Homo sapiens: one gene and its partner. The protein of the gene in region 1 purifies or fractionates together with the protein of each later gene. This does not show direct contact. Each region holds a gene or a part of one and is shown on either strand. Other genes may lie near its edges.

The links. The genes of interacting proteins can lie anywhere in the genome.
Region 2: the proteins of FAM83B (region 1) and RP9 fractionate together in Homo sapiens (co-fractionation; one large-scale study listed by BioGRID). This does not show direct contact.

The regions. Positions count from the first base shown.
Region 1 is NC_000006.12:54,849,771-54,853,270, reverse strand, and holds part of FAM83B (protein FAM83B), read right to left. Parts: intron 1-3,500. UniProt on the Homo sapiens protein: Probable proto-oncogene that functions in the epidermal growth factor receptor/EGFR signaling pathway. Activates both the EGFR itself and downstream RAS/MAPK and PI3K/AKT/TOR signaling cascades.
Region 2 is NC_000007.14:33,096,851-33,099,404, forward strand, and holds part of RP9 (retinitis pigmentosa 9 protein), read right to left. Parts: coding exon 2,457-2,554; intron 513-2,456; coding exon 421-512; intron 1-420. UniProt on the Homo sapiens protein: Is thought to be a target protein for the PIM1 kinase. May play some roles in B-cell proliferation in association with PIM1.

The DNA.
Region 1 (3,500 bases):
GATAACTTGCTTCAGCTTCTTCATGAGCACTTGCTGCTTCACTTTGCACATTTACATTTTGGAGACAGCTTCTTTTCTTAAACCTCAGGAACCAACCTCTGCTAGTTTCATACCTTTCTCCTCCAGCTTTCTCATCTCTCTCAGCCTTCACAGAATTGAAGAGAGTTAAGGTCTTGCTCTGGATTAGGCTTTGGCAGAGAATGTTGTGGCTGGCTTGATCTATCCAGGGGTGTCTAATCTTTTGGCTTCCCTGGGCCAAAAAGGATTGTCTTGGGCTACGCATAAAATACACTAACAACAATAGCCAATGAGCTTAAAAAAAGAAAAAAAAATTGCAACAAAAATCGAATAATCTTTTAGGAAAGTTCACAAATTTGTATTGGGCAGCATTCAAAACTGTCCTGGGCTATATATGGCCTGCAGGCCACAGATTGAACAGCCTTGAATTCTAGACCAATAAGATTTTCTCCCTATCAGCAATGCCATTTTACTCTCTCATGATGTGTGTGTTTACTGGAGTAGCACTTTTAATTTCCTTCAACAACTTTTCCTTTGCTTTCACAATTTGGATAATTGTCTAGTACAAGAGATTTAGCTTTTAGCCTATCTCAGCTTTCAACATGACTTCCTCACTGAGCTTAATCATTTCTAGCTTTTGATTTAAAATGAGGGCATGCAACTCTTCCATTCCCTTGAACATTTAAAGGCCCTGGTAGAGTTATTAAGTGGCCTAATTTCAATACTGTGCCCAAGGAGTGGGAAAGGCACAGGGGAATGGCCAGTTGGTGGAGCAGTCAGAACACACACAACATTTATAGATTAAGTTCACTGTCATATGTGCACATGATTTGTAGCACCCCCAAAAAATTACAAGAGTAACATCAGAGATCAATGATCACCAAAAAAAGATATTATAATAATGAAGTTTGAAATATTGTGAGAATTATCAAAATGTGACACAGAGACACAAAGTGAGCATGTGCTGTTGGAAAAATGGCACTGACAGACTTGCTTAAGGCAGTGTTGCCAGAAACCATCAATTAGTAAAAACACAATTGCTGCAAAGTACCATAAAGCAAAGCACAATAAAACGAGATATGCTTCTAATTTTACTTGTACAGATTTTTAGAATACCAAAGTAGAGAACTGTGCTGATAAAGATGACAGACAGAAATAAAGAACTGTAAATAGGCCAGGCGCAGTGGCTCACACCTGTAATCCCAGCACTTTGGGAGGCCGAGGTGGGTGGATCACAAGGTCAGGAGTTTGAGACCAGCCAGGCCAACATAGTGAAACTCCGTCCCTACTAAAAACACAAAAATTAGGCCGGGCGCGGTGGCTCACGCCTGTAATCCCAGCACTTTGGGAGGCCGAGGCGGGAGGATCACGAGGTCAAGAGATCGAGACCATCCCGGCTAAAACGGTGAAACCCCGTCTCTACTAAAAATACAAAAAATTAGCCGGGCGTAGTGGCGGGCGCCTGTAGTCCCAGCTACTTGGGAGGCTGAGGCAGGAGAATGGCATGAACCCGGGAGGCGGAGCTTGCAGTGAGCCCAGATCTCGCCACTGCACTCCAGCCTGGGCGACAGAGCGAGACTCCGTCTCAAAAAAAAAAAAAAAAAACACAAAAATTAGCCGGGCATGGTAGCGCCTGCCTGTAGTCCCAGCTACTCGGGAGGCTGAGGCAGGAGAATCACTTGAACCCGGGAGGCAGAGGTTGTGGTGGGCCAAGATCACGCCATGGCACTCCAGCCTGGGCAACAGAGTGAGACTGTGTCACAAAAAAACAAACCAAACCAAAACAAAACAAAACAAAATGTAAATAAATAGGTAGTTCAACAGATGGTGAAATGGACAAATAAATAGAAGTATGAAATGGGAGATGAGAAAGAAGAAAGATGAACGGGAAAAAAAGTAAATCAGAAGGACTCAGAAGGGATAGATAAAAAGAGAAGGTAAGTGAAGAGAAAAACATAATGGGAGGGAAGAGAAGAGAAGCATAAAAGAAAAAAGAAGGAAGAGAAGGGACAAAAGGAGGATACAAAGGATGAGATGTGACAAAAAAAGATGAAAAGGCCAATAAAGATGAAAATGGAAAGGAAGGGTTGAAACTAAAAAAAAGAATCACAGGGGAACACTGTAAACAGTTACTTACTCTAAAAACAACTTAGCTATATTGCACTCATCTTTAAACAAATAAGTCAGAAGTTACATTTGAGAAAAATACAGCACTTTTTTTTTTTTTTTTTTTTTTGAGATGAGTCTCACTCTGTCACCCAGGCTGGAGTGCAGTGGCGCGACCTGGGCTCACTGCAAGCTCTGCCTCCCAGGTTCAAAAAATTCTCTGCCTCAGCCTCCCAAGTAGCTGGGATTACAGGCACCCGCCACCACGCCTGGCCAATTTTTGTATTTTTAGTAGAGACGGCGTTTCACCACCTTGGCCAGGCTGGTCTTAAACTCCTGACCTTGTGATCCACCCGCCTCAGCCTCCCAAAGTGCTGGGATTACACGTGTGAGCCACTATTTCCAGCCGTTAAAATATAGTACTTTTAAAACATCTGTTGAATGAGTCTTATGAGACTAGGTATTTGGAGTAACATGCTGTTAAGAATTAAAGCCATCATTGCCAGTGTGTATATATAAATGACAGCCCAAACATCTTATGTTGAGTTATTCTATTACCACCATTGAGATGGAAGATGACACTCTTTAGTGCTTTGAAAACTGCCTTTTCTTCTCCAAGTAGTAATGTTTATGTAATCAAAGAAGGAATCTGATGTTAAAGAACGAAAACCTTTTGAAATGAAAATTTGGCCAAAGAAGTGGAAATAATAAGCTTCACAGTGATACTGTGGGGAAACCTTAGTTAACATTATTTTATGATACTCTCAATAAGAAGTGATCACAGAGAATTTCAGAGCAGTGTGGGTGGGACACAGGAGTGACCACATAGTCTAAACCTTTCACAATACCAGTGAAAAACCTGCAAGCCTAAAGAATGTTAATACTTTGTCAAAAAACATGACTATCCCAGGGCTGCTAATGTTCAATTTCACAAATGATTAATGAACACAAACAACGTCTGCTGTGACCTTCAGAGAATAGGAAGGAACTACAAAAATCAGTGGACTTGATCCATTTATTTATTTGTGTACTTATAATTATCATTAGGTTCCTAAACTGGAAGCTTCCTAAGATCCAGGAATATATTTTTACTTTCCTACCCCTGGAGAGGAACATATTGCTTGGCAGATAATGGTCAATAAATATGTTTAATCAAAGGGATAGTGTAAAAGAGCACAAAGTTAGAGCCATTAGATAATCATCATCACTGCATAACTTCTCTATAAACTCTTCAACATAGGCCCCTGCCAGTAACCGGGAGACTACACCTGACTCTATGTCAGTATGCAAGAGAGGCTGACCATGACTAATTTAAGTTTCCCATGGACCAGTAATCTACAAATTATTTAAGACACAGCTGAAAAGATAAATGTCAT
Region 2 (2,554 bases), on another chromosome or scaffold:
AGGGAATAACTGTCATCTAAAGAAAAAATATACGGACACTTTAATCTTACAGTTTAAAGACATGTACTCTTTAAAGACCGGGAAATTAAATCCCTGATTTCAGTCATGAAACATGACTTTTTTACACAGTAAATTTTAAAAAGTGCGGTTGAATAGATAACAATGTCTGTTTCAGAAAAAAAATCACTGTTCCAAGTTACAAACAAAGATCACTTTAATAAGAATTCCTTTTTTTTGTAAAAGAGCTAATTTGTCATACAAATGTAATTTAATAAGCATGTAGTTAACAGCACACACTTTGGTCAAAGGGCTTCTGGGAATGTATTTTATGTGACCATTCAAGTTCACTGGTGACTTTCTGCTTCACTGATTTTCACTATCTCTGATAAATGTAAATTGACACTCTTGGACTTTACTTACCACTCTGAACTGCTCTAACTTTTGGTTGCCTTTGATAAAGAAAGGGCATTCTTTGTCACCCGTTCGGTGACCATAGCGTTTGCAACGCCAACCTAAAAACGAAAAGAGAAATATTTCTGTAAGATAACAGTTTCACCTACTCAAGATAAAGAATCAGCAGAATATATTCAAGTTTTTCTTCATTAAACTCTAATTCTAAAACAAAATATAATTATGGACAAGCCATGTAAGATCCCAGAAACAGAGGTAAACTAATTGCTTCCCCAAGCATCCTTTAGTCTTATACCTTTAGGAATAATATTCTATCACCAAGTATTTATGAAGCAATCCAATGGAGAATTACTTCAAAAGGTGAATTTTTTTTTTTGAGATGGAGTCCTGCTCTGTCGCTCAGGCTGGAGTGCAGTGGCGTGATCTCAGCTCACTGCAACCTCTGCCTCCTGGGTTCAAGATATTCTTCTATTTCAGCCTCCTGGGTAGCTGGGATTACAGGTGCGTACCACCACACCCAGCTAATTTTTGTATTTTTAGCAGAGATGGGGTTTTGCCATGTTGCCCAGGCTGGTCTTCAACTCCTGACCTCAGGTGATCCGCCCGCCTCAGCCTCCCAAAGTGCTGGGATTACAGGCGTGAGCCACCACGCCCGGCCCAAAAGGTACATTTTTTTTAAAGTGTGTTTCAGTATATTTTTCAGAGTAAATGTTTTCATAAAGTATCTCTGCTTCTCATTTACTATTTTAGACACTATAAAAGCTTCTTTCTCAGGTTGAGTCTGTTCAAAACTCTCACTTTTAAGTAAATAAAATCACAAGTTCTCTTAGAATATTAATGGTGGCTGGGCACAGTGGCTCCTACCTGTAATCCTAGCACTTTGGGAGGCAGAGGCGGGTAGATCGCTTGAGGCCAGGAGTTCGAGACTAGCTTAGGCAACATGGTGAAACCCTATCTCTACAAAAGTACAAAAAAATTAGCTAAGCCTGGTGGCGCATGCCTGTAGTCCCAGCTATCTCAGAGGCTGATGTGAGATCACCTGATTCTGGGAGGTTGAGGCTGCAGTAAGTTGTGATCACACCACTGCACTCCAGCCCGGGTGACAGAGTGAGACCCTGTTTTCCTGACCCTGGTAGAAGGTTGTTTAATGTGTGGAAAAGGTAAAACAGAGGGTCTCTGGCCAGGGAGACCAGGGAGACATCAGGTAGGTCTGAAGGAAGCTGCTGCAATAGCCACAAAGGGTCACACGAATGAATGAAAAGCAGATGGACACATTTCCAGACTCCCTCCACTCGGCTCCCAGAACACTCATAGTATGGCTTTCCCTCCACGTGGGAGCCTTCTCTGGGAAAATATAACCCACCCAAAGAAGAAAAACCGATAGATACTGAACTCTGAGGCACGTTGTCTTTGCTTTTAACAAATAATCAAGGCAATGAAGCATTCCCATCAAAATTCTCAAGGAAACTGATTTTTAAATTAGAATTCAATATCCTGGTAGTTAAAAATCTGTTAAAGACGATTCCAGAAAAGTAAAGGTCTTAACATTTTTATCTTCTATAAACCCATTTTGAAGGTAACAGCCATAGGATTTGTTACACCATAAGGAGAGAATATGATAATAAAGAAGACTCAAGACACAGGAAAATGGGTGATCCAACACGGGAGAGAGGCTAAGGGGACCTGCAGAAAGATGGTGTCTTAGTCAGCTCGGGCTGACATAACAAAATGCCGTATTCTGGGTGGCCTAAACAACAGAAACTGGTTTTCTCATTCATTCTGTAGGTTGGAAATCTGAGATCAGGGTCCCAGCAAGGTGGGTTTGTGGTGAGAGCTTTCTTCCTGGCTTAAGATGACAGCCCTCTTTCTTCTTCACATGGCACGGTGGTGGGGGGTGGGGTGGATGCTTCCTTATCTAGAAGATGGAGAACGTGCCTTGGCTGTAAGAGGGCTGTGATGAGAACAAGTTAAATAAAAGAAGTAAACACTCTTTGTAAATTGAGGCATGTAAGTTGCATGGATTAGGGAAACTCTCCCACACTCACACTGCATAACTTTGACTTCTTTCCCCAGTGGCATCCAAAGTCCTTTAGTTGGTGCATGAGCCAGAAATTCCCTGGCGTGTTCATTGCCTGGTACATCT